Linked DNA regions of Homo sapiens. The protein of the gene in region 3 purifies or fractionates together with the protein of the main gene of each other region. This does not show direct contact. Each region holds a gene or a part of one and is shown on either strand. Other genes may lie near its edges.

What was found.
Region 1: the proteins of ASIC4 (region 3) and CNNM1 purify together in Homo sapiens (affinity purification with mass spectrometry; 2 studies listed by BioGRID and IntAct, with this or other methods). This does not show direct contact.
Region 2: the proteins of ASIC4 (region 3) and LSR purify together in Homo sapiens (co-immunoprecipitation; 3 studies listed by BioGRID and IntAct, with this or other methods). This does not show direct contact.
Region 4: the proteins of ASIC4 (region 3) and NFXL1 purify together in Homo sapiens (co-immunoprecipitation; 2 studies listed by BioGRID and IntAct, with this or other methods). This does not show direct contact.

Annotation. Positions count from the first base shown.
Region 1 is NC_000010.11:99,331,897-99,339,570, forward strand, and holds part of CNNM1 (metal transporter CNNM1), read left to right. Parts: intron 1-7,674. UniProt on the Homo sapiens protein: Probable metal transporter.
Region 2 is NC_000019.10:35,251,554-35,259,227, reverse strand, and holds part of LSR (lipolysis-stimulated lipoprotein receptor isoform 2 precursor), read right to left. Parts: intron 284-7,674; coding exon 164-283; intron 158-163; exon of another isoform or gene 1-157. UniProt on the Homo sapiens protein: Probable role in the clearance of triglyceride-rich lipoprotein from blood. Binds chylomicrons, LDL and VLDL in presence of free fatty acids and allows their subsequent uptake in the cells.
Region 3 is NC_000002.12:219,508,941-219,517,486, reverse strand, and holds the start of ASIC4 (acid-sensing ion channel 4), read right to left. Parts: upstream 2,763-8,546; coding exon 2,181-2,762; intron 792-2,180; exon of another isoform or gene 401-791; intron 283-400; exon of another isoform or gene 219-282; intron 1-218. UniProt on the Homo sapiens protein: Does not exhibit measurable stand-alone pH-gated sodium channel activity but may form pH-gated heterotrimeric sodium channels. Its activity could also depend on alternative gating mechanisms.
Region 4 is NC_000004.12:47,848,276-47,855,949, reverse strand, and holds part of NFXL1 (NF-X1-type zinc finger protein NFXL1), read left to right. Parts: intron 1-786; coding exon 787-891; intron 892-4,007; coding exon 4,008-4,094; intron 4,095-4,801; coding exon 4,802-4,855; intron 4,856-7,613; coding exon 7,614-7,674.

The DNA.
Region 1 (7,674 bases), on a different chromosome or scaffold from region 3:
AGCGCAGTCACCATCTTCCAACTCTCCTCCCCAAACTCAAGCTTGATGTCATGCTTATAACATGTTTACTTCATGTCTGAGTTTGTCTTCAGAAAGTGCCTTCTGGTGACTACAAATTCACTCAAGAAAAATCAGCCTGGATACATTAGAGTCACCCCTCTTGGCATTACACAGTTTGACCGCCCCCCTAGTTCACCAGATTTGGCCCAGAACCCTTGATTGTTTTTTAAAATCAAATCTACTTTCAAGAGTCAACACTGAGAGCATTCAAAAGACTATCTCACAAACCCTGAAAGCAACACCAGACATCATAATTTGAAAACAGGGACATAATTAGAATAAGTGTAGAACTTCCCAGAATGACTCCTTTGAAGGAGGCATTCATCTGATATGAGTTGGAATGTTTATTAAAAACAAAAACCAAAAAAATCAATCCCTTGACTTCAGATTCAGCCTTCAGATATAGCTTCCTAATGGCTAGCAGTACTCTCATTTAACTGCATTTTGTATAAATTTTTTGTCAAAAATTTAATGTCATGATAATTTGAGCCCGAGGCTGCAGTGAGCTATGACTGTGCCACTGAACTCTAGCCTGGGTAACAGAGCAAGACCCTGTCTCAAAAAAGAAAGAAAGAGAGAGAGAGGAAGGGAAGGAGGGAGGGAGGGAGGGAAGGGAAAATTCAATCTCACTACTTTAACATCATAAATAATCTTTAGAACTTTGAATACAAACAAATCTGGGGTCTTTTTCCTGCCACAATTTTTGAAATCATATTAAATATTAAAATGTAGCCTGGAAGGGGGGAAAAAGGTCTAAAAGCTACTTTCAGTCTCAGATTTGAGAGAACAGCCCTAGACTTTGTGTTGGTATGATGAGAAGGGAGAGAAATGTATATATGGCAGCTATTTTAGTCCATTTTCGGTTGCTGTCTCACCCTGTTCAGTCCATCTCGCCTTAATCCTTGCATTCATAGTTCCCACTGCAACTTGAGGTTCATCTATCCACTCTTAGAATTATGCTTACATTTTGTATATCTTACAGAAGTAGGGTCTTAGATCTGGGCATTGGGTGGCATAAACCACAGAAATTTATTTCCTCAAAGATCTGGGGGCTAGCAGTCCAAGATCAAGGTGTCTGGCAGGTTTGGTTCCTTCTGAGGCGTCTCTCCTTGGCTTGCAGTCACCACCTTCTAACTGTGTCCTGACATGGTATTTCCTCTGTATGCATGCATCCCTGGTGTCTCCTTGTGTGTCCAAATTTTCTCTTCTAACAAGGACACCAGTCAGATTGGATTAGAGCCCACCCTAATGGCCTCATTTTAACTCAGTCACCTCTTAAAACTGATAGTTAAGATACAGAGCAGTTAAGATAGTGTCTCATTGTCATGTGCTGGCAGAAGATGTTTTAAATGAAACTCCTGTGAACTCATTCATTCATTTGTTTAGGTTTGTTTGTTTGTTTGTTTGAGACAGAGTTTCACTCTGTCGCCCAGGCTGGAATGCAGTGGCGCCATCTTGGCTCACTACAAACTCTGTCTCCTGGGTTCAAGTGATTCTTCTGCCTCAGCCTCCCAAGTAGCTGTGATTACAGGAGTGCACCAACACGCCTGGCTAATTTTTGTATTTTTAGTAGAGACAGGGTTTCACCATGTTGGCCAAGCTGGTCTCGAACTCCCGACCTCAGGTGATCCACCTGCCTTGGCCTCCCAAAGTGCTGAGATTACAGGCATGAGCCACTGCACTTGGCCTCATTTAGTATTTTTTAAACATCTATACAGTTTTAGGCAACAAGGGAGACAGGAAGACTGTCCTCAGGAGGTTAGCAATATACAGGGCATAATGAGCAGTCTTTCGAAGCAGGAATTGTCATATCAACTCTTATATCCCCAGCACCTTACACACTGCCTTGTAAATAGTAAGCTGTTCCAAAAAGTTGATATTGATCTGAAATGAATCCCTGTGCAGAATTTCTAAACCTGGTCGAAAAAAGCTCCTTTAGTGTTCTATTAATAGCTACTTTGTATTTAGGTAGAGCACTAAAGAGAAGCAAGCCATTACAGAGAATACTATACCAAGGAAGATATTTCCACTTCCTTTCATAGCCTTGCTACTTCCTCAAAGTAAGGTCCGTGAAACAGCAGCATGAGTCTCACCTGGGAACTTATTAGAAATGCAGAATTTTATGCCTCACCCTAAATCCACTGAATGAAAATCTGCATTTTAGCAAGCTGCCAGGTGGCTCCTATGTAACATTAAAGTTTGAGAAGCATTGCCTTCAGAGACCCCTTATTAACAGTGTTTGGTAGATCTACTTAAGATAGAATATAAGACATAATGAACAAGGTGGATGTTCTCAGGCTGCAAGCCATATAACATAGTGGTCATTTTCTTTAGGAGTTATACATTTGCACCATAGGTTAGGAGGTGAAAGCTGGGTTGAACTGCTTTCCTTTACCTTTAAAAATAACGTTTTTGGCTGGGCGCAGTGGCTCACGCCTGTAATCCCAGCATTTTGGGAGGGCGAGGTGGGTGGATCACCTGAGGTCAGGAGTTCGTGACCAGCTTGGCCAACATGGTGAAACCCCATCTCTACTAAAAATACAAAAATTAGCCAGGTGTGGTGGCACACACCTGTAATCCCAGCTAATTGGGAGGCTGAGACAGGAGAATTGCTGAGACAGGAGGCGGAGGTTGCAGTGAGCTGAGATCGCACCACTGTACTCCAGCCTGGGTGACAGAGAAAGACTCTGTCTCAAAATAAATAAATAAATAAGAAAAAAATAATTTTTAAAGCTGGTCTTTAATAGCTCTTCCATTTTCCTTACTTCCTTGCTTCTCAAGTAACGTAACCACCAACAAATCCCTTCGAAGGTAGAAGAGGAAAATGACGATATTAATAGGAGCCACAGTTACCATTAATTGAGCACCAACAGTTCTTCCAGGCACCATGCCAGGCCCTTTACATACTCAGAACAACCCTCCTGGGTAGATGTCATTAACTACATTTTACAGATGAAGAAACTAAAGCTCGGATCAATAACATGACTTGTACAACTTTCCATAACTAATAACTGACTGAACTGTGATGTGAACTACATCTGTAGGACCCGAAAGCCTGTTCTTTCCCTGCTACACCTGTCTTATTCCTTCCTCCATCCTGGAATTCCTGCCACCCACAGGGTTCAAAGGTAGCCTTTTCACCTCTGATTGCTGCCCATGGCTGATTCACCTCCAGTTTCTGCAGGTTAGTAATGTAGCTTTATAATTACAGTAATTGCTAACATGCATATTGCACTTGATAAAACATTTCTATATACCTTCTCTTGTCCAATCTTAAACAACTCTGCAGTTACAGGTGATGATATGGGATTTTATCTTTTTACTTCTTATGAGTTGCAAGTCTTTAGAAGTGGGGAAGAGGAAAATGGTCTTTCACACTAGAGTGTGAGGTTTACAAAAGGGAACAATATTTCTCACCACTGGACTGTAAGTTCCTTGAGGACAGAGAATGAATCTTACTTATTTTGTATTCTCAGGACAAGTATAGTGACCGCCATGGCTAGGGGATGTATAACCATTTATTGAATAAATGGTTTTAAATACCTAACTTCTATATTTCTATGTTTGAGTGAGGTGAACCCTAAGTACGGAATAATTAATGTTGTTCCTTGATCCCAGCAAATCTCTCCTCTTCCTCTTCATGGGCCTCTGTCCCCAGTAAGTGGCACCACTTGTCCCTTTAGTCTCCCAGACTAGAAAGCTTTCCTTTGCATTCACCTCATCCTATTAATCATTGTCGTCTGCACAGGCTGTCATTAGAAAATAGCATAGACTGGTGACCTAAACAACAGAAATTTATTTTCTCGCAATTCAAGGCTTTGACATCCAAGATCAAGGTTTTGGCCAACTCAGTTTCTGGTGAGGACGTTCTTCCTGGCTTGCATGTGGGTGCCTTCTCTCCATGGCCTTTCCTCAGTGCCTGTCCACAGACAGCAAGAGGCTCTGGTCCTCTCTTCTTAGAAAGACATCAATCCTGTTGGATTAGGGCCCACCCTTATGCCATCATTTAATCTTAACTACTATACTTCCTTAGAGGCCTCTCTGGGTGTCGTTAGGGCTTCAACATATGAATTTTGTGGGAAGACAAACATTCAGTCCATAACAATCACCAAAGCTGGCCAAATAATTGGATGCCAATATTGCATCCAACTGCAGTCATGTCATTTTGGTCAATGATGGACTGCATGTATGATGGTGATCCCATAAGATTACATTGGAGCTGGAAAATTCCTGTCACCTAGTGATGTCCTAGCAGTCATAACACCTAACATCGTCCTAAGGCAACACATTACCTTTACTATGTTTAGATACGCAAATACTTACCATTGTGTTACAATTACCTACAGTATTTGGCACAGTAACATGCTCTACAGGTTTGTAGCCTAGGAGCAATAGATTATAACATATAGCCTATGTGTGTAGTACACTATATCCTCTAGGTTTTGTGTGACTACATTCTATGATGTTCACACAATCATGAAATTGCCTAGCAATGAATTTCTCAGAGAGTGTCTCCATAGTTAAGCAGTGCATGACGATTTCTTAAATCTGTACATAATTTAATCCACTATTTGTTCCACTTAGGTTATTCACTGATTTTATTCAACAAATAGTTGTGTTGGCACAGTGGAGAACATCATCAACATAGTCCTTGTCTCTATAGAGCTTCACTCTAATACAGGAAACAGAAATTAAACGAACAGGATAGTGATTAAGAACATAAGATTTGGCCAGGCGTGGTAGCTCACTCCTGTAATCCGAGCACTTTGGGAGGCCGAGACAGGTGGATCATTTGAGGTCAGGAGTTAGAGACCAGCCTGGCCAACACAGTGAAACCCCGTCTCTACTAAAAATACAAAAATTAGCCGGGCAGTAATGGTGCACACCTGTAATTCCAGTTACTCAGGAGGCTGAGGCAGGGAGGTTGCAGTAAGCCAAGATCATGCCACTGAACTCCAGTGGCAACAGAATGAGACCCTGTCTCAAAAAAAGAACATAAGACTTACTAGAATGCCTGGGTTGATACTGGCCCTGGGCAAATTACTTAACTGTTTATGTCTGTTTCATTAGCTGTAAAATGAAAATAATACTAATATTTACTCATAAGATTGTGTGAAATATTAAGACTATCGCATTATGCTTACTTACTACCTGTCATGTAAGTACTAAGTAGATGTTAGCTATGATTATTAAATATAAACACAAGTCTATTACTCATTTATGCAAATGCCTCCTAAGAAGTTACACTTTTTCACATTTTTGTCTCCCTCAAATTCGTTCTCTCTAGTGCCACTAAAATAATCTCCAGTAATGTCACTGCTTAAAACCCTTCAGCAGCTCCCCGCTGCCTACGGGAGAGAGGCTAAGCTGGTAAGGCAGCCAGCAATGCACTCATGACCTGCTTCTTGCCCTCCCCTCCAGCCTCATCGCTCACCACTCCCTGCCACAGCTTTACCCTCCAGCAATGCTGAACTCTGTGGTGCACTGTGCTATTCTTGCCTTTGTCCCTTTATTCACATTGCACTTCTGTCAGGAATATGCTTTGCCTGACTAATTCATTGCCAGCTCTTTGACACTCAGCTCAGGGGCCTCCTCCTCTGGGAGACTTCTCCTGTAAACCCCAAAATACAAAAATAGATTTTTTGGCCAGCTTCATTGTTTTATGTGCATATCTCAATCATTGAACTAACAAGCTGTACTACCAGTGTTTGTTTATAAGTGCCTCCCACCCATATAATGAGCATCTCCAGGGCAAAACTGTCTTATCTGTCTTTGTAGCTCCAGCAGCTAACGATGCATATGACACATAGTAAATTTTCAATGAATGTTTGTTTAAGGACTGAATGGATGACTTAAGGAGTTAAACTTTAATATAATGGAAGAGATCTGCAGAGCACTAGAAAATGAATTAAATCATTTTGGACTATGCAGCAGAACAAATCAAACTTATAAGTTTGTTAGTGTTAGAAGAAAAGTGTTGCATCTATTGTTTCTCAGCTTCTTTAGGTACATCTATTAATATTTATTACAACAATTTCTTTTCACATGTAAAGCACTGTGCTAAGAGTTAGGGGTATGAGATAAAATCTCTGTTCCCAAAGAGCCTAAAGCATAGTGGATGAATAGCACTTCCCTTTGCAAAGCTAGAAGGCAAGCTGGACACTCACCTTTCCCATGACTTCCAGTGACCTTGAATTTACAAGTCATGTCTCAGTATATAAGTACAGGATATGGGTAAGACAGACCTTGGTACATAAAGCATTAAAATGAAAGTGCTATACTAGAAATGCAAAAATGCAATGGGAACATGGAGGATACAATAACTATGACTAGGTGGCATTTTTTTTTTTTTTTTTTGAGATGGAGTCTCACTTTGTCGCCCAGGCTGGAGTGCAGTGGTGTGATCTCGCCTCCCAGGTTCAAGCGATTCTCCTGCCTCAGCCTCCCAAGTAGCTGGGACTACAGGCATGTGCCACCATGCCCGGCTAAATTTTTGTATTTTAGTAGAGACGAGGTTTCACCGTGTTGCCCGGGGTGGTCTCGAACTCCTGAGCTCAGGCAATCCGCCAACCTCGGCCTCCCAAAGTGCTAGGATTACAGGTGTGAGCCATTGCACCCAGTCATATTTTGCTTTTATAAATTTTTTACTGAAGTTTATGTTTCTATAATTTATACAGAAAAAAATTTAAATATAGAATAGTAGAAAAAAGAAGTATGAAAATCATATGAGGATAATCATCCCACTATCCTGAAATAGTAACTCAATATTTTGTCATATTAAAAATATATTGCACATAATAACAATCTTAATGAAATTCTTAAAAAGAAAACAAAAGGAAAAGCCCATTGTCCTGCCATCAAGCACAAATCAAATGTCCCATTCTAATCTTAAGAGTGATTTTCTTATAGGGTGGTATTTTTGCTATAGTTTCCTCAGGGTTGAGTGCTATAATTTGGGAAGACTAATTTTAAAAATGGAGCCGTAGAGATTTATCATACTTCTTAAATTTACTACTCTATTATTGGATTGCTTTTAGGAGACACTGAGTTCTGTATAGACAACAGGGGAAAGGAATAAAGCTTTGTTCTGAAGTCAAAGCTTCTGAGTAATACAGCACTGACTGACATTTAACTCAATTAAACAATTCAGCTTTGCTGGGCTAGTAACACCATCTTTGCAAACAAAAAAGCACAACCCACGTATGCTAGGCTGCTCCACCTGTACACTAGCATGGCTGTAACACAGCCTACTGCACAATCCATACTCAGTCTTTGCTTATTCATTGATTCATTCAGTAAACATTTTTTGAATTCCTGCTTTGGGCCAGGCATTACACTAGACTCTGGGAATACAGTGGTGAGCTAGGCAGACATTATGGAGCTAAAAATATCCTCTTCCATCTTTGGTCTTCCTGCAAGTGGTCTGTTGCCCAAAGCAGGGGTCCCTAACCCCCAGACTGCAGAATGGTACCAGTTTGTGGCCTGGTAGGAACTGGGCCACACAGTGGAAGGTGAGCAGTGGGCAAGCATTACTGTCTGAGCCCCACCTCCTGTCAGATCAGCTGGGGCATTAGGAGCGAGAACCCTATTGTGAACTGCATATGCAAGGAATCT
Region 2 (7,674 bases), on a different chromosome or scaffold from region 3:
GCACAGGGGAGCCTAAGTGACTGGCAGAGCCTGGGGGAGAGCAGAGCAGGCGACAGAGCCCAGAGGGTAAGCTGGAGGGCAGAGGGCGGACACAGGGGAGGGCAGACAGAACAGAAGCGGACAAAAGGAAGGGCCATGCCTCCCCCTTCCCAGGCCCACTCACCAAGGACGATGAGCTCTGCGTAGGCCTCATTGTTCCCCTGGAGGTCCTGGGCTGAGACCACGGAGCAGTAATACACACCACTGTCCCCCCACGCCGTCTGGTCAAAGGTCAGGTCAGCATCTGAGTCGGGATGAAAAGGCGTGAGGGCACCTTGGAGGCTGGGGCACCTAACCCCTGGAGGGCCAAAGACCCCTTCCCAGCACACCCAGGAGGGGGCAAGCAGTGGGCTGGGCAGGCTGCAGATGATCAAATGCATATGCAAAGATTCCTACCAAGGGCACACGGCCTTTTACACCCCGTTCTAAACACCTGGACTACTGCAAGAAGTCTGTGAGGCAGGACCATTATCACTTCTGTTTTGTGGATGACATTTCGGGTCTGGAAAAGCTGCACAGCTCTTCAGTATAGAGCAGTAATGGTGCCCTCGGAGCCTGAGGTTGTTTTTTTTTTTCTTTCTTTAGAGACAGGGTCTCACTCTGTGGCCCTGGCTGGAGTGCAGTGGTGTAATTATAGCCCACTGCAACTTCAACCTCCTGGACTCAAGCAATCCTCCCACCTGAGTAGTTAGGACTACAGGCACTCCACCATGCCCAGCTTTTTTTTTTTTTTGTTTGAATCGGAGTTTCACTCTTGTTGCCCAGGCTGGCATGCAATGGTGCGAACTAATCTCGGCTCACTACAATCTTCGCCTCCCAGATTCAAGCAATTCTCCTGCCTCAGCCTCCCATGTAGCTGGGATTATAGGCACCTGCCACCACACCTGGCTAATTTTTGCATTTTTAGTAGAGATGGAGTTTCGCCATGTTGACCAAGTTGGTTTTGAACTCCAGACCTCAGGTGATCCACCCCCACCTCAGCCTCCCAAAGTGCTGGGATTACAGGCGTGAACCACCACACCCAGCAGTCTGTGCTTCTCAACTTACAGCCATCTCTGAACCACCTCTCAGAGCCAAAGTCAGAACTCCCCTGATGTGAACTGCCACCCACAGGGCCTAGTGTAGACCCCAGGGATGGGTGTGGAGATAAACAGGCCAGATTCTAGGTACCAGGAGATGCCCAGGCACCCATAAGGAGTGGGTGTGTCTATGTGGGAGAGAGAGACTTACCCTCCCAGTGCCTTGGTTCCTCCCCCTCCCCTTCCATCCCCACATTCCAGGTCAGGCCCAGGGCTTGGGGACGCTCTTGTCTGAAGCAGCTGCAGGCAAGGAGCCTGTTAACTCTACCATCCATCAAAGTGTTTTGGCACATCCTGTTTCCTCTCTGCTTCTCAGGCACTAATTAAATACCTTCAGCCTTTCACCAGGGTGGGACCAGGGCACCTACCAGGCAACTCTGCCTTAAGCCACTGGGGACAGAAGTAGGCTACATTGGGCATCTCGGGCAGGAAATGCCCTCAGCTTCCCGGCCTCTTTCCTCCTAGCCTGACCTGCCTGCCACCTTCCCAAGGACGCGCTGCCCTCCTGCATGACAGCTCTGTGACGGCAGCAACCACGCGTGCTGCAGTCCACAGCACCTGGCACCCCCAGGAATGAAAGAACCCTTGCTTTCTTCATAAGGAAGGCCTCATGTCTACAGAAAAATCCTCCTTGCAACAGTGTCTGGCTACAGCATTCCAGACGCCTTCCCTAAGGTCCCATAGTCCCATGGTCCCCAAGGCCCTTGGCACGACGTGGTCTCTAGCTACCGTGCCAGCCTCACCCCTGCCATCGCCTTGGTTCTAGATTTGCACTGTCCCCCTGTGGGCTGGGCTTCTCCCACGGCTCCCCCACCCAACTGCTGAAGTCTTATCTCCCAGCTTAGGGGCCGACCATCCTTTGCCTGGTGAAAATGTGGGCTCCGTGAGGCAGAGCCCTGTCTGTCTCAGCCACTGCTGGGTCCCCAGTGCCTGACACAATACCTGGCAAGGAGCAGAAATGAACACCCTCTTGGCCGGACATGGTGGCTCACACCTGTAATCCTAACACTTTGGGAGGCTGAGGCAGGTGGATCACTTGAGGTCAGGAGTTCCAGACCAGCCCGGCCAACATGGTAAAACCCCATCTCTACCAAAAATGTAAAAAATTAGCTAGGCATGGTGGCACGCACCTGTAGTCCCAGCTACCCTGGAGGCTGAGGCAGGAGAATTGCTTGAACTCAGGAGGCAGAGATTGCAGTGAGCTGAGATTGCACCACTGCACTCTAGCCTGGGCAGTAGAGTGAGACTCCATCTCAAAAAAAAAAGAAAAAAAAGGAAACGAACCCCCTCTCCTCATGCTAAAGTCCCTTAGCTTTTGTCATCTGTCTCATCATTCTGGGCACATGGCTGGATTCAAAGACACATTTCTTTCTTTCTTTCATTCATTCATTCATTCATTCATTCATTCATCCTTCAACAATAATTACTGAGTACCACCTATGTTCTAGGCAGTATTTGAGACACCTGGGATACCACAGCAACAGTTCTCAAACTGCAGCCTCTAGACCCTGGGGTTCCCCAAGACGTTTTCAGGAGATCCTGAGGTCAAAGTTATTTTCCCAACAATACTAACTGTGGAGTTTTCCAGAGGCTACGTGACATACAATAGATATCACAACAGACTGAAGCAGCTCTGAGAAGCCAGGCTCTTCTATCCAGCCAGGCTTCGGAGACTTGCAAAAAAATAAAACCATGCCACCTTCTCATTCACAATGTTTTGTCTGATTTCAGAAAATGATTATTTTTTTCATAAAAGGTATTTTATTTATGTTAATCTATAATGACTTTATTGTCATTTAAACTATTTTGTAAACTTTTCTCATTCTGCTGCCTATGAAAACAAACTCTTTGAGCTCTTAATTTTTTTTTTTTTTTTGAGATGGAGTCTCGCTCTGTTGCCCAGGCTGGAGTGCAGTGGCACGATCTTGGCTCACTGCAGCCTCTGCCTCCTGGGTTCAAGCGATTCTCCTGCCTCAGCCTCTTGAGTAGCTGGGATTATAGGCGCCTGCCAACATAACTGGCTAATTTTTGTATTTTTAGTAGAGACAGGTTTTTCACTGTGTTGGCCAGGCAGGTCTGGAACTCCTGACCTCAAGTGATCTGCCCGCCTGGGCCTCCCAAAGTGCTGGGATTCCAGGCATGAGCCACCTCGCTAGGCCTGAGCTCTTAATTAACCTCAAAATCAAGAATATAAAAGAGGCCTAAGCCCGGAACCTTTGAGTTATAAATCCTTGCCCTTGCCCTTCTAGAGTTCAGATTCTAACTAGGAAAGAAAGACAAATATAAAATGTTAACTATGTCACATATCAGACAAAGATAAGCTGTATGGAGAAAACGAATCAGGGACAGCAGAGAGTGCCAGGCGTGGAGTGGGGGCTGTGCCATTTTAAACAAGGAGGCCAGGGAAGGCTTCCGGATATGGTGACCTTCAGAGCAGATGTGAAGGGGTTGAGGACACGACTTACCCTAATGATCAGGCATCTAAGCCACTGTTTTTTTGTTGTTGGTGTTGTTTTTTAATTTTGAGATGGGATCTTGCTTTGTTGTCCAGGTTGATCTTGAACTCCAGGGCTCAAGTGATCCACCTGCCTCAGCCTCCCAAAGTGCTGGGATTACAGGCATGAGCCACCGCCCCTAGCCCCCACCGTTTATTGAGCTCTTACTATGTGCTGGGCCCCTCTACACACATTCTTTCATTGAATCCTCATAGAATTCCAAACTAGGTTCTCCTAAATCCCCAGGTTTGCCACAATGCCCTCTTCGTCCATCATTTTTCCACCTGTATCTTTTTTGAGAGGGCCTAGCTTGGTCGCCCAGGCTGGAGTGCAGTGGTGCGATCATGGGTCACTGCAGCTTCGAACTCCTAGGCTCAAGCAATCTTCCCATCTCCAGAGTAGCAGGGTGTGCCATCATGCCCCGCTAAATTTATTTTTTTGTAGTCTCTGGGTCTCACTGTGTTGCCCAGGCTGGTCTCCCAGCTCCTGTCCTCAAGCAATCCTCCTGCCTCGGCCTCCTGAAGTGCTGGGATTACAGGCATGAGCCACCAGTGTCTTCAGATCAGACCCTGACCGTGCCTCTTCAACACTGGAGCTCAAGAGCTGGTCCCTGCTATAAACAAAAGAGGTGGACAGGAACCGCCTGCCATGGCAAACAGATCATATAGGCCAGGGGTTGAAATCTGGCATCTTGTAGGCCGAGGCTGGACCTCACTGTGTTTTGTTTGACCTGTCTGACATTTTCAAAACTCACAAAAAATATAGTTTTCCGGCTTCTTTTGATCCATCCTAAGGTCTGGGCACACCTTCTTCCTGCAGGGCGTACCCTGTTCCTGGTCTTGGGCTGGCCGTGATCTCATCCGGGCTGAGCACTGCTTTCATTGTTTTAGGTCGGGGAGAAGATGCCAGGTCTCCAGTGGGAACAGCAGCCAGGCCTCCTCCACATCTCCAACCTCTGGTTCCTTCTTTATACACCGCAAAGGTGACCTTCATGATTTCAGAGGTCCCATGGGCTCTCTGCTGCAGTGCAGCTGGAGGTGGGGGCACTTGGACCCCAAGGAGCCCGAGGAGGTGGAACAGGGCCTCCTGTCCAGGTGCTGGTCCATCACCCAAAGCATGGAAGGACAAAGCAGGGAATGAGCCACCGGACCGGAGGGATGCCTGGAGTGGACAGCCTTCTACCTTATCCAGGACTATTTTCACTTTTGAAACCAGGATAGGCCGGGCATGGTGGCTCACATCTGTAATCCCAGAACTTTGGGAGGCCAAGGCAGGCAGATCACCTGAGGTCAGGAGTTTGAGACCAGCCTGGCCAACATGGCGAAATCCCATCTCTACCAAAAAGATACAAAAATTAGCCAGGTGTGGTGGTGTGCACCTGTAATCCCAGCTACTCAGGAGGCTGAGGCGGGAGAATCACTTGAACTTGCGAGGCAGAGGTTGCAGTGAGCTGAGATTGCACCACTGCACTCCAGCCTGGGCAACAGAAAAAAAACAACAACAACAGAAAAACCCCAGCACAGTGGGTGACCCTAGGAACACCACGGGGAGTCCACTTTTCCCCATCCTCAAAGCTGAAACAGAGGAAGCTCCTATGGCTATGGGATTTCCTGAAAGGACACACACAATGGATGTTTACACTCAGGGCCTTGATCAAACACAGGCCCAGGTGGGGGTGGTTTGAAAGACCCAGGCCTGTGAGGCCCCTGGAGCATGCAGGGCCCCTTCCCCGAGACAGAGCCTGGGGGGTCATCCTGGACTTTTGCGTCCAGCAGAGGAAGCACCCTCAGTATTTGGCTTGTCCTGGCAGAAGCTTAGCAGTCACGCCTGGTCCAGGCAGGCACAATCCCTGGGTTAGAGAGGAGGGGGCCTAAGCAGCCCTGTGACCTCAATAACAGTAGGATGCTCATGGCTGAGCTGCCCACAGAAATTCAGGGCAAGCAAGCCTGGTGCCTCCTCTGAAACAGGACTGACATAGGCTCAGCCCCTGGAACCCTGCTTCCCATCGATCCTCTAGCAGAATGTGCTCCAGTTCCTGGCTTCTTGGGGTCTGCAAAGGGATGCTCCCTTCCCCGCTCTGCCCCATGCCCAACTTTAAATTCTTGTTTAAGACAGTGAACACACACTAAGACATGAGGTACGTGAGCCTTCATCCCTGGCACCCTGCCCCTCCCCTTCCTCTCTGCCTTCTAGGTTCTGTAAGGCCCAGGCCCAGGCCCTCCTCAAATCATATTCACAGCCCAAGTCATTCCATGTAGCACATCACCCAGTGCTATTTTCTTTTTTCTTTTTTTTTTAAGACGGAGTCTCACTGTTTCCCAGGCTAGAGTGCAGTGGCGCAATCTTGGCGCACCGCAACCTTCGCCTCCCAGGTTCAAGCGATTCTCCTGCCTCAGCCTCCCGAGTAGCTGGGATTACAGGCGCCCACCACCACGCCCGGCTAAATTTTGTATTTTTAGTAGAGATGGGATTTCACCATGTTGGCCAGGCTGGTCTCGATCTCCTGACCTCAGGTGATCCACCCACCTCGGCCTCCCAAAGTGCTGGGATTACAGGTGTGAGCCACTGCGCCCAGCCTATTTTCTTTTCATTTCAAGACAGGGTCTCACTCTGTCACCCAGGCTGGAATGCAGTGGCACGATCATGACTCACTGAAGCCTTGACCTCTCAAGCCCAAGCAATCCTCCCACCTCAGCCTCCTGAGCAGCCGGGACCACAGGCACATGCCACCATGCCCAGCTAATTTTTAAATTTTTAAAATTTTTGTAGACATGGGGTCTCATTTTGTTGTCCAGGCTGGTCTCAAACTCCTAGGCTCAAGTGATCCTCCTGCCTTGGCCTCCCAAAGTGCTGAAATTTACAGGCATGAGCCAATGCACCCAGCCTGGTGTTATTTTCTTTGCAACACTTAGTACTCTCTGACATTCTTATACCTTGACGGAGTCTTTTTTTTTTTTTTTTTTTTTGAGACAGAGTCTCACTCTGTCGCCCAGACTGCAGTACAGTGGTGCGATCTCAGCTCACTGCAACCTCTGCCTCCTGGGTTCAAGCGATTCTCATGCCTCAGCCTCCTGAGTAGCTGGGATTACAGGCATGTGCCACCATGCCTGGCTAATCTTTGTATTTTTAGTAGAGACGGGGTTTCACCATGTTGGCCAGGCTGGTCTGGAACTCCTGACCTCAGGTGATCCACCCACCTTGGCCTCCCAAAGTGCTGAGATTACAGACGTGAGCCACCGTGCCCAGACTTTGAAATTCTCATACTCTTTCTTTATCTGCTTATTTACTGCCAGTCTCACTCCACCAGAATGTCATCTCCTTGACGACAGAAACTTCAGCCATCCCAATCACCTCTATCCCCAGCACCAACGACACATAGTCGATGCTTGATAAATACCAAATGAATGAATGAATGACTGCCCCTTACTTAGTCCCAACAGGCACATCCTATCAGGAGGCAGCATTACAGTTAAGAACAAGGGGCCGGGCGCGGTGGCTCACGCCTGTAATCCCAGCACTTTGGGAGGCCGAGGCGGGCGGATCACGAGGTCAGGAGATCGAGACCATCCCGGCTAAAACGGTGAAACCCCGTCTCTACTAAAAATACAAAAAATTAGCCGGGCGTAGTGGCGGGCGCCTGTAGTCCCAGCTACTTGGGAGGCTGAGGCAGGAGAATGGCGTGAACCCGGGAGGCGGAGCTTGCAGTGAGCCGAGATCCCGCCACTGCACTCCAGCCTGGGCGACAGAGCGAGACTCCGTCTCAAAAAAAAAGAACAAGGTTCTCAGGGCTGCCTGGGTTCAAACCCCAGCTCCAGACTTTGACTTCCTATGCACCCATTTGAACAAGGTAACCTCTCTGTGCCTCAGCTGTCAGGAGGGTAGAGGAGAGGACTCAATGGGAGAATATGTGTGCAGTTCCTGGCATGTCACAGGCTTTCTCCATTAAGCTCTCTTGCCCCTGCAGTTCACTCCTGCCATCTCCTCTGTGAGTCCTCTGCGGACCACCCTAGGCAAGCAAAGGGATTAGGAGCTTGGCCACTAGACCCAAAGTGGCTGAGTTA
Region 3 (8,546 bases):
GGAGGCTGGGCTGGAGACAGGGGAAATGGAAATCCCAAAGGGGAATTCCTGTCCCCCAATGCTAGCTATGCCCTCTACCCCCACTGTCCTGCACCAGGGCCAGAACCTCAGCCCACGGACTTCTACCATCCTCCTTTCTCCAGCCCCAGGGTACCAGAGGGCCTGTGGGAAATCCACCCACACTCCTCCAGGCCATCCCCAGGATTCCGGGGACTCACCAGCCTTGATCAGAGGATCCCCGTTCCTGTATCCTCCAGGCACCGCCTCCTAGCCTGGAGACCAAGCAGAACCCTCTGCCTCCCTCCCCTTACTTCCTCACCCCCTCCAGCTCTTCCTCTCCTTTCCTCTCACTGAGGTCTCATCACCCTTCCCCTTTCCTGCCCACCCCCAACTCCCGCTCGGGGACACAAAGATCCCATTGATTTCTGTCCCAACAGCACCTGCTAAGACTGAGCTCTGCCCAGCTCCCAATACGGAGTGGTGAGGATTGAGGACAGCAGAGCCCTATGGATCCCAAAGGCCACACTCACCCTCCATATCCCACCTCCTCCTCGGGGACTCTACCAACCCTTGCTTTGGGGAGCAGTGCTTTTCCCTAGGAAAGGGGGTGTACAGCCGGACAACAGGCCAATGCCCCCGACTCTTCTCCCTGCACAATGCTCCTGCTCCTGTCCCTCTATTTCTACCTAACTCCCCTGCCCAATGGCGGGAGGCCCCAGACACTGCAGGCATGGTGGGGGCCAGGAACCTCGTTGGCTGGAGCATGTTTCCTGGTGATCCTGAGGCAGCGGGTGAGTGAGAACCTGGCGGGGGTCCCTATCACTGGGGCTGGCTGCTGGAGGCTGGGCTGGAGTGGGCACCATGTTGACGCCAAACATTTGCATATGCACTGGGCAGTGGCAACGAGGATGAAACATACACGCATGCACACACAATGCTGGGAGCAAACTGTGGACTAGGGACAAGCATCTCGAGCGCCATGAATACTAGATACCCTGTGACTATGGGTGAATGGAGCCCTGACAGACAGGCAGTGTACAAGACACGCCCACCCCCTCACATACCTGACTGTGGGAGGCGTGCATGGCAGAGCAGCCCAAGCTCACACCCCTCTCCCGGAGAGGGTGCTTGTGTTTGTGCTCACACGTAGGTGACAGATGGCGCCAGCAGTCTCCAAATGGGGAGCAGCGGTTGGGATAGATGGGGGTGGGGGTGTCATGAGAAGGGATGGCATCCACAGTGGGACCCTGTCCTTGGCAGCTAAGCGAGAGCTGGGAGCTAGACATGGAGATGAGTAGCTCTCTGGGTGTGGGTGTGCAGGTGTGCATGTGAGTGTAGTGACAGGGACAGTGAGTGAGAGAGGGAGTGTGCAGGAAACTGTGTCCCCCAGCAGTGCGTGTGCGTGTGTGCGTGTGCATGTGTGCATGCACCCGTGCTGGGGCAGCAGTGAGGGTGAGTTATGCACATAAGAGTGAACCAGTGATTCCCAGTGTAAGAGCCAGAGCTGGGCATGGGAGCCGCTAGAACAGGAGACAGAGGGGGACTGGACCCCAGGAGGGCTGGAGGGCAGAATGAAAGAGGGATGTGTGAGGGAGTCTGTGAGGCAGGCATGTGAGAGACACACAGAGATCCAGAAGAGACACTGGCACCCAGTGTCCTGAAGACCGGGTCTCTCCAGCCTGCCCACCAGGCCAGCTCCCCAGGAGGCCACCCGGGGTCCTTCCCTAGATGGAGCCCCCCAAACCTCCCCTCCCTATCTCCTTCGTTTGGTGGGAAGAATCCAGTAGCCTCAGAAGAAAAAGGGAGCAAGAGAAAAGTGAGAGTCAGTTGGTCTGGCCTTGGGATGGTGCGTGCGTTCCCTGCAAGCCAGCCAGCTCCAGGACACCTGGGCCCATGCCTAGGAACCCCCACCCCAACTCCCAGACCTGGGCACTGCAGCAGCAGCAAAACCAAGAAGAGGAGCAGCAGGCGCCCCAGGGTAAGCCCCTATGAGCGGCCACTGCTCCATGGCTGGGAAGCCAGAGGGAGACGCCAGGCTTGGGGAAACACGAGGCCAGCCTCTGGTGGTGGAATGAAGGGAAGCCCTGTTGAGGATGCCCCTGTACACCACTGCCACCACTCCTCCCCACTCCCCAGCCTCCGGCCATCCAAGGCCAGGCAGCCCAGCTGGCAGAACTCACCACAGAGAAGTTGCTGGCGGAGCAGTGATGCCCACTGAAGTTGCAGCTCTTAAGCATGTCGGCGAGCTGGTGGCCAGTGCGGTTGAGGATGTCTACCATGTCAGGCTCTGGGTAGCGCAGGCCAGCCGCACGGTGCCCATCCCGGTCTTTGGGGGGCAGCCCTGTCAGATTGGCCAGGTGGAAGATGTCGGCATCGCTGAGTGCCGAATGCCGGAAGCGGTTGATATTGCAGAGGGTGACAGCCGGGAAGCCCGCCACTGGGGCTGGGGCAGCGGGGTCCATTGCCACCAGGTGAGGCCGGGTCAGGTAGCCCCGGGCCAGGCCAGCCGCCTGGTACAGGAAGGCAGCCAGCGAGGTGAGTAGGGCCAGTGCCCACAGGGTTCTGCGCAGTCCGTGGGGGCCTGGGCCACAGGCCCGGCCCAGTCCATGCAGGGTGCTGGTGCTGGCAAAGGTGGCCAGGTCTCGGGGGGCTGCTCCAGGGGCAACAGCCCCGAGGAGGCTCTGCTCATCCCCTGCCTCCTTCTCCTTGGGTTTCGCATCCTCCTCAGCAAATTTGATTTTGCACACAATCTCGATCGGCATCTGTCCCCGGCTGCTGGGACTGGCCAGAGCCTCCCTGCCCTGTCCCTCCCTAGCCAGCAGCCCTGGTGCCCTCCCGAGTGGCAGTGGTGGCAGCGGCTGCTCTTCTAAACTCAGGGCAAGCGGGAAGAGGACAGGGACAGGGTGGGGGCCCGAGGTGGGGGAGTCACTCCCACTCCCAGCAGCTCCGCAGCCCTGGTGCTGCCTCTGCCGCTGCTGCCTCTGCTGCCGCTTGTCTCTCTCCTCGATCGTCTCCTTGTGGCTTCCCTTATCAGCACCAGCACAGCTGTCAGCCCCTGCGTGTGTCCCTGCGAGCGAGCGAGTGAGCGAGGGAGCGAGCGCTGCTCCGCCACGCCGCGCAGCCCCAGCCGCTCCGCTCAGCATGTGCTCCGGAGCCCTCCCCACGCTTAATAATTCAGGACATGTCAACAGCGTTTCACCGGCAGCACGGGCGTCAGGAGCCAGGCCAGGGGAGGGGGCAGTCCCCAGCCCAGGACAGAGATCCCAAGACTGGGGCTATCCCCCAAACTCCTGCTGCACCCTAGCCGCTCACTGGGTCCCCAGATCTCCCCACTTCCTGGCCACCCAGGGAAGGGTGCCGTGCCCAGGGTCCTCAGCTCATTCTTTGCCACTTTCCTGGCCCACACCCCATGAAGGGTCAGCCAACTCTATCCCCCCACCTCCTGGCCTCTGAGACTCCTGACTCCAGCACCCAGCCACCACCTGATCCCACTACCCGACTCACAGCAGCTTCCAGAAACTCCTTGAGAGAGCCACTTGTTTGAATGACGGAGGGAGGGGGGCAGAGGAGGGCAGGCTAGACAGACCAGGGGACAACTGTGACTTCAAGATTCTCAGCTTCCCTGGAGCTTTGCTCCAGACTTCAACACCCACCATGCCCCTGCCCCCTCTGGGAGGCTGGCTGCCCTCACCCTCATTTTGCCCCCAACCCCAATCTCAGTCATTCATATGTCTGGGACAGACAGCACCCTGGCCAGCTTGCATATCTGTGGCCACTTTGCTTCCCCAAATGTTCCCCAAATCCCTTGCCACAACCAGGCTTCGGGGGAGGGCTGTTGGGTAAGCAAGCCAGGGAGCAAAGGGGAGGTGTGCTTCCGGGGTGCTCTATATGTAGGGGGACAGGGCATGCAATGGAGGGAGAGGAAGAGCCCCAGTGGGGGCGTGGAAGGGAGCAGGAAGATGTGCTGGGCGTCAATGGGAGCGAATGCTCTCCTAAAGAAAGGGGTTTGAGGGGTGCCTGGCAGAGTGGGGCAGGAGAGCCCTAAGGGGTCTGCTGTGTTCTCGTGGAGGGGAACAGGCATGTGGGCCATCATCATAGGTGGGGGTGGGAGCCTCAGTTGACTGGCCAGGAGGGGATGCATCCATGCCCCCAGGGTGGGGGTGGCAAGAATCAGTGCTTGTGCTCTGGGGCCCCATCCGACAGCATGTGCCCTCACGGGGGAGGAAGCCCTTGTCCCCGGGAGGAAAGGGGGGCTGATTAATCGGGGCGCTAATGAGCAGCAGGGAGAGGAAGCGTGGACGGGCGGGGGGAGGTGGCTCCATCGATCCAAGCCGCAGAACCAGCAGCTGAGAAAAAAAGTGAGAAAGGAATCGATCTGAGGGAAACGGCAGCTGCTGGGGATTAGAGCCCGAGGTCCACCCGCTGCCCAACGGCCACCCCGCCCCCTGCGTCAGGCCTGGCCCCGCAGCCTCTGCCTGGCCCCAGGGGAGGGGCCTAGGGATGGCTCCCTTAGCAGCTGGAAGCCACTTTGCCCACCCTGGCTGCAAGGCCAGGTCAGGCCCCATCAGGGTCACCCCAGCATGGAGCCTGCCCACACACCCAGCCCTGACCATGCGTGGTGCCCTGCTTAGGTTGTCCCTAGCCTTTAGGCAAAGTGGCTTCCCCAGGGACCCCACAGCTGGGCTTCCCCACAAGCCTCCAATGAGTCTGGGTCAGCTGGTTCCCCAAGCTGGGAAGATAAGACCCCTGGGGCAGGGTGATGCATCTGGCTGGGACATAGTGTCCCAGAAGGGAAAGTGGGATTGGCATTGGACAAAGCCGCTGAGTTAGCACTGAAAGTGGCCAAGTGACCACAGACAGCCCCCTCTCTCTGTCCCATGCCCAGGCAGCCGCCTCCTATGCTCTCCCCTCCCTGGTAGACTTCCAAACCTTTCCAGAACTCCCCCCACTGTTCCTCCCCATCCTTCTCTCTCTTCTCCTTTCTCCTAATATTGATTTTTCTTTACTGTTTTTTTTAAAAGGTGATTTAATTGCTTTTTAAGGTTACTTTAGTCTGGGGCTTTGCCAAGAAAGCGGGAAACTGCCCCCCAAACTCTCCGCAGCACTCGTTGCTACCCTGGAGTGCATACATATCTCTAAATTCACCCACCATCTATTGAGATCTTGGGGTCACACTTCCCCGACAACATACTGGCCTCCATCATGAGACAAATCACATCCTCTTTCCTCCTGAGGGTAGGCAGGATGCCTTCAACCTCTATAAGGAAAGAAATCGGGTGGTAACTGGGTATAAGGGGCATGCGGGGGGTGCTGTGAGGGGAGCTCCAGGCTGCCAGGAAGTGGAGCAGCAATTAGCTGCATGCACACCCCCACCACTGCCCCACAGCCAGCTGTCTCCAATTGTCCCCAAGCCCCCAGCCTCCAGTCTCCCAGATCTCCAGGAATCTGGTGATGTTCTGAGGGAGTGCCCCCATACTTCCAGCTCATCTCTTGACCTTTCCCTCCGCTTCTCACCAGGCCCTCTGGCCCCCTCCCTGTCTCTCTATACCCCCTTTGCCTCTGGCCCCGTCCCCTCTCTCCTCCCTCTCCCCGCTTCCCTGCCTGCCTCCCTCTCTGCCCGGCTGCAGTTGGGTGATAATCTCCCTCATTTAGCCTCCCGGCTGCTTCCCCGGCTCATTGCCCAGCTGGTCCCTGGGGCCCGGCCCAGCTTCTTCCCCACCCCCACCCCGGCCCTGCGCCCAAGCTCCCCCACCCCTCCCTGCTTCCCCCACCCACTCCCGGGGGACCAGCTGCCCCTTGCAGTGAGGCATCAGGGACAAGTGTGGCTGGCCAGGCCCTGAGCTGGGTGTGAGCAAAGGGGGCAGGGCTGTTAGGGACCCTGGACTGGGAGTGCCGGGGAGCTGGGTGTTGCGGGGTCAGAATGTGAAGCCTCATCCCAGGTTCCTTTGCTCTCTGGTTGTCCCCATTCCTCAGATTTATTCCCAGTCCAATTCACCTGCCTCCGCCCCCCAGGGGATGAGCTTCCTGACAGTGAGAATGAGTGGTAGATGGACTGGGACGAGGTTTGGTAACAGGGCAGAATGTGGGGGGGGGGCAGTGCATGCAGTCGGGGGGAGAGACAGGGAGAGCAGTGGGTTTCTGGCTCAAGGTTCCTGGGAGGAGGCATGGAGATTTTGTTTGGGCAAAGTGCCCCAAAGGCAGACCCAGAGACCTCCCAGGATCCAACCTGGGGGGTTCCAAGGGTGCTTTCTCAAAGCACAGGAACCCCCAAGCTGATGCCCAGATTCCTTGCCTGGCTGGCCCCATTCAAAAATGCTGTGACCCCCTGAACTCCTAGACAGCATTCTCCAAAAGATGCCCAGCCTCCCTCCCCCTGCACCCAGAGGACACCCTCCCCAGCCCAGACACCTGGCCCTGGTGCGGACCAAGTGATGAGCCAGTGTGGGACAGATGTGGGCGGTAAGGGACAAGGATGGGGGGGCTGGGGCTGGGCTGGTCCAGGCCTGGCTGGTGAGCACACAGCGGTGACAAACGGGCTGTGCAGGGGCCGAGGGGCGGGGGGCGGACGGCGGCTGATTTATCTGGGTTATTTATGCCGCGGACGAGGCAGGAGAAGCGGTTAATGAGAGTCCCAGAGAAGGGGGGTGGGGAGTCCCGAACGTGATCTGAGGCGACTGAAGAGGGTTAGCGTCCCACCGCCAGGCCCTGCCCCCACTGTCCGCCAGTACTCCTTGCACCCCCACCCCATCTTTCTAGGGCCAACCCAGCCCAGCACCTTCTCCCGAGTTTCATACCAACACTTCCCATCTCCTTTCGGGTACTCCCAAGCCAAGGCAACGGGTCCCTGGGACTATAAGGACACCAGGTCCAAGATGGGATGGGGGCATCAGGAGGAAGTGGGGAAGACACCAGGAAAGGGAGGGCAGGAAGATGAAAAATCCTGGCTGGCCAGAAACTAACAAAGTCTGTGGGGCCTGCGGGGGAGGGCTGGGATGGACGCAGCCATCGTGGGAGTGGGTGTGCAGCCGACAACCTCGGAGCTGAGGCTGCAGAGGGCAAAGGGCATGGGGTACAGAGGCGGTGTCAGCCAGTAGCCACAGCGGGGGCCTGAGTGGCAGAGACAGGCTGGCCGGGAGGGGGTGCTGGTCAGAGAGCGGAGAGAGCTGAGGAAGGAGGGGGAGAGGGCTTTGCAGCAGCGAAAGCTGCTGGGAGCAGATAAGGCGGCACAGCAGCAGGAGGGATTAGAGCTCCGAGGGGCATGTGGGGAGCGGTGTGGGAATTGGGGGGTGGGGCAGGGAGGAGAAGGTTGAGGGCAAGACACTAGGGCCAAGGAGATAAGTGGGAAAAGTGAGGGCTGTGAAGACGGCAGGGTTTCATCAGGGGCCAAGAGGTGGTCATCGACGGGGAGAGGAGAGAAGGAATTCCTGATCCTTCTCTCCTCTGTCCTAGGAGAGGGGGACTTTTCTGCCATTGACAGAGCCCCCGCCCCCCACACCCCATGCATGTCAGGGGCAGCAGAGGGACGCACTACCGAGGATCGAGAACGGGCGGATTTGGGGGTGGGGGCAGTGGCAGGGGCCAACCCTAGCAGCTGAGCTGAAGGCTAGACTGAGAACACACAGCACCCCCTTGAGGTGGCCAGTGGAGCACAAGGGTGCCGCAGCGATCAGCGCTGGCACCGAGACCTTGTAGTGCCCAGGCTGTGGCAAAGATCAATTTCAGAGGGGGCTTCTTCATGGGGAGGGGTGTGGGCTTGGAAGGAGGGCAGATGGCTTCCCAGAGATCACCCCTTGAACTCAGACACCCCTCACCACCCCCTGCCCTCCTGCTCTCTGAGCCTCCCAGGATGTACTTGGGGTGTGTGAGGTCCCCCACTCCCTCCACACCAGAGCCCAGGGCAGTTCAGAGGTGGCCATGGCGGCAGAGGGGAGCCTCAGGGAAGGAAGGGGAGCAGGAGGGGCTGGGGAAGGGGAGCGGGGGTGGCAGGCGGGGCCGGGTAATTGCATGTTTGCCAGTTCTCCCGTCTCTGCACACGAGGGAGCGTGTGTCAGTGGGTGTAGCTTCGCCTCAAAGAGTATGTGTCTGTTGGCAGAGGTGTCAGTGTGTCTGTCTCAGGGGTCTGGGCTCTCCTTGGCCCCCACCCACCCCTTTCCACCCCCTTTGTGTTTTGGGGAGTGCAGCTCTGGGCACACCCAGCTGTGCTCCGTGCGGATGCAGCAGATGTGGTGGGGCCCCAGCTGTGCCTGCTTCCCAGAGAGGGGGAGGGGGCTGCAATCTGCTCCCCCGATAATGGCTGCTAAGTGCCAGGGGGAGGGGATTGAGATGGAGGTGGGACTGGGCCCCCTGGCAGCCTGGCCTAGGGGACTGGAGGGAGATGAGGGCTCTGCCCCCACCCCACCCTGTCCTGGCCAGCCTCCCCCAAGTCTGTGTTCTTGGCTCAGCCTTTCCCCCTCGGCTGGCTCCTGAAGCCCATCCAAATTTCTCTCCACACTCGGTCCCTGTCCCCGGCTCTCCTCCCCTGTCGCCCTATCCAGCTTGGTGCCAGG
Region 4 (7,674 bases), on a different chromosome or scaffold from region 3:
GGCCATTATGGTGATTTAAGTCATGTCTTAAAGTGTGGATAAGATTTGAATAGACAGAGAGACCATGAACATTTCATCTTAATGCTTGACTAGGATAGGAAGACAGTAAACAATTAAAGACACGGAGCATAAACATCATGGCAATTACTGAGTTGTTTTGGCTACCTAAATAATATTTTTTTAATATTAGTAGAAAGGGTAAATGTTGTAGAATAAAAGGCTAAACAGTTATAACACCGTATAAGGACAGGGCATTTTCTTTTTTGTTTTTTTTCCCACAGTGCAGTACAGGGAAGGTAGGTGTGTCATTGTATTCCATGTGTTCACCCATGAATCCAAGTCAGCTGGCAGCTCTGCTCTCTTTGGCATATGGTTTCCATTACCGCTCCAGCTTTCATCATATCCAGGACATGGGGAAGAGAAGAACATGGAAGTATACTCTTGAAATGATCTGAAGCATGAATCACCTGTACTTGCTTACATTCCATTGACCAGAACTCAGTTATATGGCTATAACTAGCTACAAGGGTGGCTGTAAGATGTACTGTTGGAATGGAGCTGGGGAGAATAATTAAATATAATTAAATTATATATATATAATTAAATTATATAAGTGTAATTAAAATAATTTATATCTAAAAGAAAAATAGTTTACAAATTATCCCATTAGCTAGGATTGATTGACCCTTTGTGTGATGGACTCTCTTAAAATTGTTGGGGTATGGGGGAAACTAGAGTATGATCAAGATGTAAGTATGTAATTGCTTTATTTTGATTTTATTTTAGCTTCCTTGTGGTCATAGATGCAAAGAGATGTGTCATCCTGGTGAATGTCCCTTTAACTGCAACCAGAAGGTAAAACTTAGATGTCCTTGTAAAAGAATAAAAAAGGTAAATATTTTAAGTTATTGAAAATACTTTTCTATATAAGTTGTTTTTGTGTGGTTTTCTTGTTCTTGTTTTTTGATCTATGTGTTTTGGTAGTTGTTTGGCTTTTTTTTTTTTTTTTGCCTTTTAATTTTGAGGTTTTACTTCATAGAACTTTTTTATTATTGAAATGAGCCTACTAGTTCTTTAAACATTTATTTTAAACATAAGCTTTGGCGATTTAATTTTCTGCAATTTAACAGTAAAAGGAAAATTATTTTTTATGTTGGAACCAAATTCAATGCCCTGTTTTGGTCAATGTGCTTTAGATTTGAGGTCTTTGAACAAGGAACACAATGTAACGGGTAGAATGTTTCATTGCTTAAGAAATGGCTTGAGATTAACTTTGTTGCTGTTATTTATGAAATTCTTTTTACCATCAGTATTGTCCTTTGAAAATATTGCCTTAAAAAGACCTCATATGAATAGCCTTATAAAGTAAAATAACATGTAAACTTGGAAAGAACTAATTTTAAGATAAAATGATGGTAACAGAGGAGTAAATGGGCAAAAACTAATGATTACAAAGCCTGATGGAAACAAACTATATACTGCTCAACAAAACTTATGAAGGAAAATATACTGTCCTAATAGTCTTTTTCTCAATTCTCTGTTTCCTTGATCTTCCCTGTTGGCAGTGCTTACTCCTTTGAAACCAACTTTTTTGACCTCTGATTTACCCTATCTCAGTTATAGTCGTAACTCCTTTTTTTTCCTTCATATTCCTATTGTCATTCCCTAAAGCTTGTCTTTTTTGTCTCTTGAAATTCGCTTTTATTCATCCATGTGATGGATATGTATTGAGGATCTTTTATAGGTCCTTTGCCTTTCATTTATGTTCATAGTTTCTGATATGTTTTCCTAGGATAGGGAACTTCTGAATTTAAATTTATACACTTGGCCTTTTAGGGAGTGGAATCTTTAAGTTTTAGATATTTAAATTGACCCCCTGTACCTGAAAATAAATACTTGGTCAAGCCATTTTTAATGTGAGATGTCTCTTAAGTTTTCTCTGAAATCTCATGTCTTGTCCAAGTGCCATATGCCACCCACCCGTTAGTACTTTGGAACAACTCTTTTCTGGGCTTTGGCCACAACTTCGTGACCCATTTCCTTGTCTCTAGTCACACCACTTCCCTGTTCTAAATTCTTCAATGGCTCTTCATCACTTATGGAAAAAGTGCATTGTATAAAAAATGTGTATGTGTAGGTATATGCAGACTCGGCATACCAGGGAGGCTATGATAAGACATTTGCCTGCTTGTTCAGTCTCGTCATCTAGCAATCATCTCTGTGAATCTGTTACTTAAGTGCCCTAATACATATATTGTACCCTCGCTTAGCTTAGGCTGTGGCAATGTATATATATTTTTTTCCTGTGTAAAATACAATATGTTTTTCCTTTAGCTCTCTGCTTACTAGAATCCTGCTAATACTTATTGGAAGCACTTCCTTGTTTGAGAAGGTTTTCCTTCCCCAGGTTCCCTTGGGAAGGCTTAGCTGTTCCTTCCTCTTGACTTTCTTTGTACTGGGTTCATAATGTAGAGCTTTGTGATTCTAGGTATCTGTAACCTTGTTTCCTCATCTGTAAAATAGAGTTTATAGAGATTTATTGAAAGGAATAAAAGAGGTAGTGCTTACATAGCATTTAAAACAATGCTATGTTTAATAAATAGTAGCTGCCATTACTATAAAAGAGGTAGTGCTTACATAGCATTTAAAACAATGCTATGTGTAATAAATAGTAGCTGCAATTACTATTGTTATTTATTTAGCACTTAACAGATGATTATACTGTTTATTTCTTACTGTGTTCCATTTCCCTGTCATGGTGTTTAGCATGTTATAGGCACTCTGTAAGTATCCTCTGAATGAGAAAAGATAAAATCCTCTTCTAAGCTGATGGACTTAATGTCTATAAACACACGATACTTATTTTTGTCTCCAGTGTTTGTTCATGTTAATTTTCTTATGTCTGGACTGTCTTTGGAGGACAAGACTATGTTTATCACTAAATCAAGCCAAAAATGAAGAACTAAGGAATAAAAAAAAAAAAACCCTCCAAGTAATAAAATTCCATGCCATAAAATGCTTTTACTAAATGCACTTTACTCAGGATTTGGTAATCTCATGTCTAAGCTGTGGTAGATTTGAACAAAAAACTAGAGTCTGAGGGTCTGGTGAGACAGGAGAAACTGATACAAATTAAATATACTGAGAGTAAAAGTGACATTGGCAGCAATAAATGAATGAATAAAAGATAGATGTACTACAAAAGGCAGTCTAAAACTAATATAAAGACCACTCTTCAACTCAGTAGGTCATCGTTTTATTCTGTCGTAGTACAGAAATTGGTCATAGTTTTGATGTCAAGACATCAAAAACAGTAGATCAGTGTTCTTTCATTAAGGAGGTAGTGAAGTGCCAACATAAGCTTTAGAACAATTTTCATCTAAACTTAAAAAAAGTTTAACAGTCGAGAGAAAAATTTGTAGCTCCCCAGAAAACTCTCTAGAGCTGCACTATCTGAGATGGTAGCCACTAGTCACATGTGGATATTTAAATGCAAATTGTAATGAATTAGCATAAAACAGTATTAAAAATTTGGTTCCTCATTTTCACTACCCACATTTCAAGTGCTCAGTAGCCATATGTGGCTAGTGCTACTCTGTGGACTAATGCAGATTTACAACATTCCATCCCACGCACATACCAGGAAGCTCTGTTGGACAGCACATTTGTAGAACATTGTATTCCCTGGACACTTTGCAAGAATAACAAACAATAAAGAAAAGTAAAGAATAAAAACAACATGGGAGCTAAGTCCAATAGTGGCACATAGTAATTATTAAGTTGATTTTTAAAAATTTTATGGTATTCTCTTTTTTAAGTTAAGAGAAAATAAGCAAGTAATCACTATTTGAAGCAGATATTTAATGCTTGCAACTATATCATCATTAAATATTAAGACATCAAATAATACTTATAACCTTAAGCTATCAGATGAACTTTGCTTTTTTATGGCAGACAGGTCTTTGAGGGAAAAATCATTTAAAATTTGAAAATCGGGTTGTTTGTAGGAATTGCAGTGCAACAAAGTACGTGAAAATCAGGTTTCAATAGAATGTGACACAACGTGCAAGGAAATGAAGCGGAAAGCATCTGAGGTAATGTCTCGTTAAATATCATTTTAAAGACTAGTGGCCTTTCCCTTCTTATTTTGTGCATTTATGTACTTATTAAAAACAACTTGAAATCTCATTTTTTTGCTTTTATAATAAAAGCCTAGTTTTATAGGCTTATTTTGAATGGCAGATTGGGATTTTCATTGCCTAGTGTATATGAAGGCTTTTCATCTTCTATGCCCGTTATAAGATTTTGAGATTCTTTGCTGCTTGGGTTATCTCTAGTGTTACTCTTCCCCTCCATCAACCCAATCAGTGACCTCTTGATTTTGTTTGAAAGTAAGGATTCCCTTCCATGATAGCACATTTAAGATAAATTTAACTCTAGAGAAACAGCAGTATTTAATAATTAATTCTAGATTCTTAATACAGCAACTCAAGAGGAAAAAAGGCAGTTTTAAAATTTGCTGTTACAGTGTTTTAACTCTTTGAATTACGATGTAATACCGATTTTACTTGTTAAGCTGAGATGCTCATATAAGGTATAACACTCCATCCATGACCACCTTCAATTTATTAGATAGTGCCTTGGTAAAACCTTGTCTCAGTATAGCATTTACATTTCTTTAAATGATTTCAAGCTCCTAAAAGTTGATATGGGTTAATAGAACCTGGATGGGTAGATGTTAAAATTCCATATAAAATGTGATGACTAAATTGTAAATTGACTTTTGTATGTGTATAAACAGATAAAAGAAGCAGAAGCCAAAGCTGCTCTTGAAGAAGAAAAACGAAGACAACAGGTAACCAAACAAAATACCCAGATTTATGTCTCTTAGCATCATTGCTAGATTTTGTGCAAACACGGGGTATATTCCAAGGTCAAACTAAGGTCTAGTCTCTATTGTGAACTGAAAATAACAGTTCTTGTAAAACAAAAATGAGCCATCTACTAACTTGACTTTAAGTATACTGAAACTCTGAAAAGGTATGAGATCTCATATATTCCCAAATTTTTTTTTTGTATTTCCAATTTACTTTCTTGCCAATATCATCCATACTTCAGCCAGAAGAATTTTAATTCCTCCTTTGGCTGGGGAGTGAGAGTGAGCGAATCATCACCATTGTAAGGCATCTTCTGGAGACCATGACTTTACTTAACTAAAAGTATTTGAGTTCTATTTTACTGAGTTGCAGACCACCTATAACAAATAAGTGCAGTTTACTAATCAGTACATTTGTTTTAATAATATATTCCCATATTTCCCTATTAGATCTTTAAATGCGGGATTATAACCTGTTCTTTGTTGTTACCTAGAGAACAAGTACATTCCTGATACTCCCTGTTTAAGTATTTACTTTATTGATCATACACTTGAAAGAGTGGCTTGACTTTCTAATAGTGATGTATAACTTTTTATTATTATTTGTCAGTTTGTATCTTGAAATGCTTTATACTTATCAGATTGTATTGTGTGCTAAGCTACTGCCTTTATGAATGATGAGATTGAAACTTGCGTGATTTGCATGAATAAGGAAATTCAAACTTTGATGAGTTGTAGGAACAATTAGAACAATTAGGAACATTAGAAACAATTCATGTAGTAAATAATGGTTGGCCAAGGTGACCTTTGAGATTTTATGGTTCTGTAAAGTTGATTTGCCTGATATCCCCAAAATAAGTTATCAGAGCTAAATAGTAAAACATAAGTTGGCTGGAATCCTAGGAGATTAAGTTATTAAGAATAGTTTAGTATGTTTTCTCCTTATTCCCTTTGCTATCTTTTTATAAATCATCATGGATGAAAATCTTAGATACATTCCCTGTTTACTGACTCTTTAAACAGAATATAATCAGTCCTTAGTATATGTAGGTTCTGCATCTGTGAATTCAACCAACCACAGATCGAAAATTTGTTTCAAAACAAGTAAAAAAAAAAAAAAATAAATAATACGCATTTTAAAATACAGTGTAACACCTATTTACATAGCATTTACATTGTTATTAGGTGTTATAGGAAATCTAGAGTGATTTAAAGTATACAAGAAGATGTTTGTGTGTTATTTGCAAATCCTCCACTATTTATGTAGAGACTTGATCATCCTCAGGTTTTTATATCCAAGGGGATCCTAGAACCAATTTCCTACAGATACTGAGGGATCACTGTATACAGCACATAATATATACTTGGTGACTGTGAGTCACCATTTAACTGTCAGTTATTTTACTGTGTCTGTAGTCCTCAAGTTTGCCTGCTTTTAAGATATTTTGACGTTTTTTATATGTCAGAAACTAACCACTTGGGAGTAGTCTGACATTTTGGCTCATTGAAGAATGCCACTTTGTATTAAACTAAGTTTATTATTAGATCTTTTTCAAGTGTGGTTTATGACCACAGTAATGGATATGTGAACTAAAGTTTACATTTCCTCCTATTAAATAACCATTTACAAAGTTTTAGGTGGATATTATTAAATACATATATATTTTAACTATTGTCTTAATTACCTATGCACTATAGCATATTATATTACATTATTATGTGTAAAAGTTTAATAAGTACTTAGCAGTAGGATAAAAATCCCCATTTGATATTGAATGCAATTCAGTTATCGTCTTTTAGTACTAGTTTAAAATTTTTATGTCTAAAATAGTCATTTTGATTTTAAAGCATGAAGAATTTTTTCCTTTGAAGAATTTTTACTATTTTTAAAAAATGTATTTGGTAGAGAAGAATCGAGTTCTGGCAGCTTTTTTCTCTTTACTCACTTGAATTTCTTTCTTAAAAGCCACTAATGTTTATTGCATGCATTGTAAACAACTAGAATTATAGGTATCTTCATTCTCACTAGGCATCACAGCACTTGCTAGAAGCTTTATAGAATGCTGGTTCTATAATAATTGGGTTGAAGTATAATGGTGTCAATGTATAAGACCAGTGTCTATATTTTAGAGCATCCTGATTTAATAAGACGTTTTATTTTATTTATTTATTTATTTATTTTTTTGAGATGGAGTCTCTCTCTGTTGCCCAGGCTGGAGTACAGTGGCGCCATCTCGGCTCACTGCAAGCTCTGCCTCCCTGGTTCACGCCATTCTCCTGCCTTAGCCTCCCGAGTAGCTGGGACTACAGGCACCCGCCACCATGCCCGGCTAATTTTTTGTATTTTTAGTATAGATGGGGTTTCACCATGTTAGCCAGGATGGTCTTGATTTCCTCACCTTGTGACCCGCCTGCCTCAGCCTCCCAAAGTGCTGGGATTACAGGCGTGAGCCACCGTGCCCGGCCTAATCAGACATTTTAATATTTAGTATCATAGTCAGCCCTACAGTTTGAAATATTCTCTTCTGTTATCTCCCAGTCTCCTTTCTGCTTACCTAAACCCTGAATTTGTTGAATACAATCAGTAGTGGAGAGTAGTGTTTTAAAAAATCAAATCAATATATTGACTATATATCATTACTATTAAAACATTACCCAAATTGATTTTTATGTAAATGGAAACTTTCAAATCAATGTATGCATTGAATTTAATTAAAATGATGCTGTTTTTATTTAGGCTGAACTAGAAGCTTTTGAAAACAGACTGAAGGGTCGTCGGAAGAAGAACAGGAAAAGAG